Regions from separate parts of the Homo sapiens genome. Here region 2 is linked to region 1. The links come from fine-mapping of genetic effects on gene expression. Tissue or cell type: pituitary. Region 1 holds a variant in brackets; the other region holds the start of a gene. All regions are shown on one strand. Distances are between the middles of the regions.

Evidence for each region. PIP is the estimated chance that this variant, and not a neighbour inherited with it, causes the effect.
Region 2: it holds the start of FMO3, and the variant in region 1 is the best candidate, but not a certain one, in a credible set for the expression of FMO3 in pituitary (GTEx, PIP 0.55).

The regions. Positions count from the first base shown.
Region 1 is chr1:171,122,023-171,126,424 of GRCh38, reverse strand. All of the region lies in intron 3 of FMO1-AS1 (FMO1 antisense RNA 1), which reads left to right. Among named protein-coding and RNA genes, the nearest start is that of MIR1295A, 22 kb to the right of the region's middle. The variant T/C (reference allele first, on the strand shown) is at 2,470.
Region 2 is chr1:171,089,013-171,093,414 of GRCh38, reverse strand. FMO3 (flavin containing dimethylaniline monoxygenase 3) reads right to left here and starts at 2,510. Exons shown (of 9, transcript NM_001002294.3): 1 at 2,434-2,510; 2 at 625-762. The coding sequence starts at 756.

The DNA.
Region 1 (4,402 bases):
AATTTACAAAAGAAAGAAATTTATTGGACTTATAGTTCCACGTGTCTGGGAAGGCCTCAAAATCATGGCAGAAGGTGAAAGGCACATCTCTCATGGCAGCAGACAAGAGAAGAGAGCTTGTGCAGGGAAGCTCCCCTCTTTAAAACCATCAGATCTCATGAGACTTATTCACTATCACGAGAACAGCACAGGAAAGACCTGCTTCCATGATTCAATTACCTCCCGCTGGGTCCTGCCCACAACACGTGGGAATTCAAGATGAGATTTGGGTGGGGACACAGCAAAACTATATCAATATTCTCTATGTTGAAACTATTGTTAAGGTTTCTCTTTCCTGAAAGCACCCTAACTGATACAGAAGTTGGTGCCAGGAATGGTCCAAGAAAATGGACACTTAAAAATAAGATATTGGGATTGGTTTGGTCATGTCCTTGGACTTGAATGCAGTGCTGACCTCCTTAAAAATTGAGAATCGTGATACAGTAATCCATGCAAGCAATGGCATCACAATTAACCACATTATCACCTCTATTTGATTGTGAGGAAGTACCTACTGAAGCAAGTCCCTTGGTGGGGCAGGGTGGGGGTGGGGCAGACGACAAGTGGCTGCTACATTTACCTGCATGATGGCAATAATGACCACAAGATCAAGGGTAGGGATGGTAACTTCTGAGTGCACTGAAGCACTTAAGAAAGAAGATGACAGGCACAGGTTTTTCAACTCTCGGCTCAAGTCATGCCAGACAGCCAGAGTGCTCCTGTGGTGGATTTAAAATAATATTATTTCTTGCAACAAAGGTTCAACTTGTCTGAAAATCAGAACAAATTTTAATTTTGCAGGTTTCAGAATGACAACTTATGCTGAATACCCAGCCTCAGCAAGTCTTTTAATGAAGCTGAGAATCTCAAACCTTCGAATCACTTTGAGCTTCTCTTTCTAGTGGAAGCAGCCCACCATCCCAAGTCTGAGGATGTTTAAAAATCCTGTAATAACCTCACTGGTGGCAATTGCTTTGCAAAAGGATGGCTATTCTCAAGAAGTACCCCAATCCAGCCTTTGCTGCCATTAGATTCATGACTAGAGTTAGATCTCAGCATGCTTCTGGGAACAGGTACAAAGTCTGACCCCAAAGGAAAGAATTTAGATTTAAGACGGGTTTAAAAAACGCCTGGATTTCAGGCATTTTTCTATGGTTATATATATATTTCATGTATAACCATAAATATATACATGAAGGTGGGTTTATTCAGGGAGAAAACTCTAAATAGTATAGTTTGTCTGGAACATAGTTACAAATAAGACTGGAAAAGTAGCTTTAGTCATATTGGGAGGCCCCTTGTATGAGATTTAAATGGGGAGAAAGAAGAACCAGTAAAGAATTGTATGCACGTGTAATGTGTTTTAGAGGCTCACTTCAGGAAGATGATTCTGGCAGTAGTATACAGGATAAACTATGACAGGGAAACTAAAGTCTAGCTGGCCAGTTAGAGGCCTATTCCAACAGACTAAGAAATTATGATAGCTGGGAGTGGGGTGGTATGTTCCATGTACTCGGGAGGCTCAGATGGGAGGACTGCTTGAGCCCAGGAGTTCCAGGCCAGCCTGGACAACATAACAAAAACCTGCCTCTAAAAAAACCGAAACAAAACATGAACAAAAAATTAAAAAACAAACCAGGCAGCAAAAGCAAAATAGACAAATAATACTATATCAAAATTAAAAAAAATAATGATAGCCAGATCTAATTTGCCAGAGTGGGAATTATAAGATGGAAAGAGGCAAAAGAGATAGAGAAAGTAGACTTTATAGAACCTATCCTTAGATTGCAAGTGGGGATTCAAGCCAGGGGAAGAGAGAATGAGGCTGAAATATTGAGTCTGGGTATGGGTAGCATAAAAATGAGAGAGAGAGAGAAGAAATGATGAAATGAATTGGTCGAAGGCACAGTGGGGTGGGAACAAGCATTGAAGATGCCAAAAAGGAGCATTCTGCTGATTTAGAATGAGATCTTACTGGGATAAAATAGAAGGAATTGCAGCTGGATTTCTGCACTAGAGATTAGGGAAATATAGAACTTCAGAATATTGATAAATTGACTAGAAATCCATCAGGTTTGGGGCTGATACACTGTAAGCAATATAGTTTCAGTAGCTTAAGAAAAAGTACACCTGGGACTCAAAGGGAGTTGGTAACCACTGGCCTCACATGTTTCCTGGGTTGCTTTGGTTTGCAACTAGAGGACTGGACTAGACAACTTTTAAGGCCATTTGTTTTCTATTATTCTATGTCATGATATGTTCTCTATTAATTTTAATTTTAATTTTTTTTTGAGACGGAGTCTTGCTCTGTCACCAGGCTGGAGTGCAGTGGCACGATCTCAGCTCACTGCAACCTCTGCCTCCCGTGTTCAAGCAATTCTCCTGCCTCAGCCAACTGAATAGCTGGGACTACAGGTGCCCGCCACCACA[T/C]CTGGCTATTTTTTGTATTTTTAGTAGAGGCAAGGTTTCACCATGTTGGCCAGGATGGTCTTGATCTCTTGACCTCGTCATCCACCTGCCTCGGCCTCCCAAAGTGCTGGGATTATAGGCGTGAGCCACTGTGTTTGGCCCGTGTATTTTTAAATAGACTGTTTTCCCCTGATAGAATGTGACTTTCTTAAAAGTGGGATTATTTTAATATAATTTCCTGTTAAATCTCCAGGTCCTAGAATATACCCTAGTACATAACTAGTACAAAAACTGTTGGTAGAAAGCATGAATTCTGTTTGCCCTTTACTATTATCATTTTTATGGAAACTTTTGCCCTGGAAAACATGATAATTATTCTGGAGCTGAAAAACTGTGCTGTGATTTGGATATACTTTGCTTGGCCCTATCAAGTCTCAGGTTGACATTTGATCCCAATGTTGGAGGTGGGTCCTGGTGGGAGGTATTTGGATCTTGAGGGTGGACCTCTCATGAACTGCTTGGTGTCATCCTCACAGGAGTGAGTTCTCACTCTTAGTTCTGTGAGAATTGGTTGTTAAAAAGAGTCTGATGCCTCCTCCTCTCTCTACTGCTTCCTGCCTTACCATGTAATTTCTGCACACATCAGTTCCCCTTTCCCTTCCATCATGAGTGGAAGCAGCCTGAGGCCCTCATCAGAAGCAGATACTAGTGCAATGCTTTTGTACAGCCTGCAGAACCATGAGCCAAAGAAACCTTTTTTCTTTATAAATTATCCAGCCTCAGATATTCCTTTATAGCAGGACATATGGGCTGAGACACAGTGGCACTGGAAAGCTATTTGCAGTAGAGCAGCAGTCTAAAAATAAGCAGATCATGTGACCCCCACTATTATTTGTCTGTTTTATGTTCCACAGGAAGAAAACTGCTTGAAAACAGGCTGGGGGAACAACATAAAACACTGACAGGAGTTGTGTTATCTGACAGGATGCAAATTACACAGTGAAATTTAGATAACCATTTGCCATTATCTTGCTGGAAAATTTTCAAAAGTTTAACATTTATCTTTGAAGGCTCTGAGCTGAAATTCATAGCTCAGAGCCCCTCTTTAATTTACTCAAGCTTGGGAGAGGAGATTTAATAATTGCCAGTTGTGCCTTCACACAGAAGCACATTTTCACCTAAACACAGAGAAATTTCAGTCTGCTGAGTTTGCTGTTCCTGATCACTAAGCCAATCCAAACTAAGGCGAAAGGTGAACAATTGTCAGCTGCAGGGCCTGGAATTAGTTTTCCTTTGGTAATATTGGTATCTGGTATAAACTCTGCACCTGTTCCCTCACCAATCCTTTGGTAAATCCTACTGGGCTGGCTCCTTCTGGTGGTCATGAGAAGTTGCAGATCTCCAACTACAGGGAGCATAATTGACCAATGGACCCAAACTACAGGGAGCATAATTGACCAATGGACCCAAGCTGCTCATTGAATGCTGTCTTTGAACTGAGGCTGTACTTGTTCAGGCTATTCCCAGCCAATGACTGAGTATGGCAGAGATACCTAGGCAGGCCTCTGCCTTATAGACACAGGGCTCTTCTGATGCCCAACTTTGTTCAGGCATTCCCCTGCAGCTTTGCCAAACCATTCCTAGACTGCTTGGCAGTCTGGAATGTTTTCACCCAACTCTCCTCCCCTCACTTCTTCGCTTGGGGTCATACTTGCATCCCTGTCTGACAGCTCTCCCTGTCTTTTCCAGCTCCTTTCCTATTATCTTTCACAGGTATTCTCCTGATCAATTCCTTGCATGTTTAGTCGTATGTTGTCATATGCTCCTTGGAGGACCTTTCTTAGAGAATATACCCATGCTCTATGACTTGACTTATTGGAGCCTTATTCTGATCTCCAGGCCACTTGATTGGGACTCTGGTAGTCTGTCTGGTTCTTAGGAGTATCCCTTACCT
Region 2 (4,402 bases), 33 kb after region 1:
ATCTTAAGTGAAATAACTCAGAAACAGAAAGTGAAATACCACATATTCTCTCACTTACGATTGGGAGCTACATAATGTATACACATTGACATAGAATGTGGGAATAATAGACATTGGAGACTTGGAAGGGTAGGAGAGTGGGAGGCGGTTGAGGTATGAGAAATTACTTAATGGGTGCAATGTACATTATTTGGGTCATGGCTACACAAAAGCCCAGACTTAACTGCTATACATTATATCCATGTAATAAAACTGCACTTGTACCCCCTAAATCTGTAAAAAAAAAAAAAGATGTGAAAAGTTATTGTGTTTTAAATGAGTAAATAATTATAACTACATAAACCTAACTAATATTTACCACTAATTTTATGTCCAAGTGGCTCTTATTAATGATCTATCAAGGGAGAACTGTAATGGAGAATTTCAAAGCCCATTGTCTAATTTACTTCTGACTTGCAAGGAGGTTACTTTCCAACCTGCTCTTGACACTGTACTTAGTGGATTCCAATTCTAACAGATATGATAACTGCCATGGTAGCAGGTTTGGAAACCTGTGTGCACACAGTGTGCTCTTATACACTTCCCAACCTATTTTCCTGTCTATTACAACAACATGCTACTCACTGAAAATTTCCACAGGCCCCCAATGTCATTGCTCTTCTCAAAGCAGGTGGGCTCCAGCCCCTCTTCCAGACAGCTCCTGATGGAGGCCAAGCCACTCACACCAGCTCCAATGATGGCCACTTTCTTCCCCATGGTAACCTGTGCAAAGGCCCAGAGAACATTTCCAGTAACAACATTGCTGAAAATGTATTTACTTATTTATCTATTTATTTTGATTTCGCTCTTTGGCTTAATAAAAACTTTACTTTTTAATAAACACTGGCTGAGTATGGTAGCTCACGCCTGTAATCCCAGCACTTTGGGAGGCTGAGGTGGGAGGATCACTTGAGCCCAGGAGTTTGAAAGCAGCCTGGACAACAGAGTGAGACCCTGTCTCCACAAAACAAAACAAAAAACAAACAAAATCAGCTGGGTGTGGTGGCACATGCCTGTACTCCCAGCTACTCAGGAGGCTGAGGCGGTAGGATCACTTGAGTTCAGGAGTTCCAGGCTGCAGTGAGCCGTGATTGTACCACTGCACTCCAGCCTGGGTGACAGAGTAAGACCTTGTCTCTAGAAAACAAATTCCTTTTAGTGATCTAACTACATTTTCATTTCTCTCTAATTTCTAAAGAGAAAGTTTTCTTCTGAAAAAAAAATAAGCACTTTGTTTTTAGTCATCAGCTCTCCAAAATTAAGAGACTGATGACCCAGCATACATATTTATCTTTTTTGCTTTTGGACTTTGTCATTTACTGTCTACCAAAAAGAGTAAGCAGAAGAAATAAAGATTCGCAACTAAAACACCTGTAGACACATCCACCCACCCACCCACATACATATGCCTGTATATGGGAATGAAGAAACACATATGTATATGTATACACACACACAGTCATACACACACACACACACACACGCAATCTGTATCTTCTTTTTACTTAGATACGGATAATGAGGAACAAGGTCTGAAGATGTCTGTATTTCAGTGTGCCAGGTAGTCACCCCTTCTCCCCATCAATAATGTACTTCACCTTCTCAATTAAAAAGACAAGTAAATGGTGCATACCTATAGTCCCAGCTACTCTGGGATTATATAGTCCTGTTGAGCTGGGGTATCGCTTGAGCCCAGGAGTTTGAGGCTGCAGTGAGCTATGGTTACAGCACTGCACTGTAGCCTAGGTGACAGAGTGAGACCTTCTCTCCGGGGGGTGTTGGGGAAAGAAGTCATGTTCTTACCTAAAAACAATTTTTTCCCACTACCTTCAGCGTCCATTCCCCTCTAAGAAAATTACGTTTCCTAACTTTTTTCTGTTCCTGACACTGTCTTTAGGCTCTACCACTACTTCTTTCACTACTTTTTTTTTTCTTTTTAGACAAAATCACATAGCTATGCAGGGAAATAGACTTGGATGATTAAACATCATGATCCGTGATTCCCAGAAACAAACAAACTGCCTGAATTATATCATTCTCATTCTAGCCATATTTGGTATAAAACTACAGCATGCTCCTTCTTCATTTACCCATCCCACCCTCAACCCTTTACTATATCACCTTTTATTCTTTTTCTTTTCTTTTTTTTTTTGAGACGGAGTTTCGCTTTTATCCAGGTTGGAGTACAATGGTGTGATCTCGGCTCACTGCAACCTCTGCCTCCCAGATTCAAGTGATTCTCCTGCCTCAGCCTCCCAAGTAGCTGGGATTACAGGCATGCACCACTACGCCTGGCTAATTTTTGTATCTTTGGTAGAGATTTGGTTTCACCATGTTGGTCAGGCTGGTCTCAAGCTCCTGACCTCAGGTGATCCACCCGCCTCAGCCTCCTACCTTTTTAATTTTCCTACCCGTTCTTTGTCTTCTTTTCTTCTGTGTGTCTACGTCCTGTCCAACCGTCTGGGCAGTTTGAAAGAGAAAATGTTCTAGTGAGCCTACATATTAGGAAGATTGTTGAAAAATGGGAGGAGCTGCTCTTAAAGAGATACTCATTTATTGGTCCTTGAATGGGTGAGCACACGCCAACCCTCTGTGATGGATGGGACTGTAGGCCAGTCTCCCATGGCCACCCAGTTTCTACTTTTCCTTTGATTATGGTAAACACAAGCTGCTGGTTATACTCTTGGACCCTTGGCCTGGGAGTCAAGTAGTTTCTCCCAGGTGACTTTGCAGTTCTGTACTCCATTTTATTATGTGTTATTTGAAAGTTTACCTTGTTTTCCTTATTCCTAGTTCTTTTGTGGGTAGCTCATAGTAGTCCTCCAAATACTGTAGAAACTTAGCTACTTAATTGAGATAGCCCAATAAGGAGGATGACTTTTCTCTGCTCTCTCTTTTCATGTCCTGTCTTGGAATTTTGGGGTCAAAGGCCTGTATTTCTCAAGCTTATATTTACTTGTTTCTGAGTACAGTGTGTGGTCACAGAAAAGATCAAAATTCCACAAATTGATCTATTAGTACCAGGAACCAGGTAAAATTAGTACCAGGTAAAATTATGTTGGCAGTTAGACAAAATAAACTGCACCTAACTCCCAGTCATGAAATATAGTAGAATTTCAAAAAAAGTTTTCCTATCAACTATATTTTGATGTCACTTAGAATTATAACATCTCACTCATTTTGTCTAGTTAACTCCTTCATTAAGCAAGTGATACTTAGTGTAAACTGGTATATGTCTAATTTTGAGGAATTACCCTTCATGCCTTTTGAAGACAGTAATCTTCATCTCTGAAGTGTGAGTATGAGAGATTCCAAATCACTTCTATAGCTCTGTGGCCTTGGGCAAATCACTTAACCTTTCCAATCGTTGATTTACTCATTAATAAAATAGGGATAACTACACTATTAATTCCTGTCTGGCTATTTTTTTTTTAACAAGGATTAGAGGATTAAAGGGTATGTACACATAAATACATGTATACATAGGTACATATAAAATGTGGCATGTAGTTAAAAATGAGCAAATGTGACTTGTAGATAAAAATTAAAAACAAGTCATAGGTTCATGAAATTTTCTAGGGCTGCAATTCAGACAACATGATTTTCTCTGCTCTCATTTTACATAGAACTTCTTTTCAGTTTTTAATGCTACATAAATAGAATTAAAATAATGCAAAGAAAAGATTGTGACTACTTCAGGAAGCAATACTACTCCTATAGCCTTATTCATTTAAAGATTGGCAGGACACACCCAATTCTACCTTGGCCTCCGATGTTTTATCTCTCTAGGAGGTGAAAAGGCCACCTATTCTTTGCTGTCCTTCACAAGAATGTATCTGAAGTCGACACATTTATTAGTCCTGTCTCTCTCTAGCCTATCCTTTGCTTGCCACAGCTTTCTGCAGAGCCCCTTTTTAAATCTTCAGAATCTCAAATGCCCAGGCTCTGGTTGGGGCAGTGGGCATTCTCTACTCTGTTGTCCCCTCCAAATCACAAAACTGCTAAGAAGAAACTTTCATCCCTGGATGGTTGCTAGATTATTGTTGCTGTTGGAGGATATGAGTGGAAGACTTATATTCTGTTCTCTTGCTCTATATTTTCTTTGTATTTTAAAGAAATTTTTGTTTTCTTCTAATTGATTTGCTGGAGGCAAGGCATATATCTCTTGTGACACCTGTTGTCATGTCTGATGATGCATAACAGTTGAAAGATTTCTATAAAATGAGAGTGGCTTTTGGAGACTCAGACTTGATCATCAAAGCTATGATGGAACATTCCAAAGATGTGGATTCTTTAGGGTCCATATTCTGAAGCTAATATCTCGTAAAGAATCGAGTGAACAACAATTAGTGCAGGCAGTGCT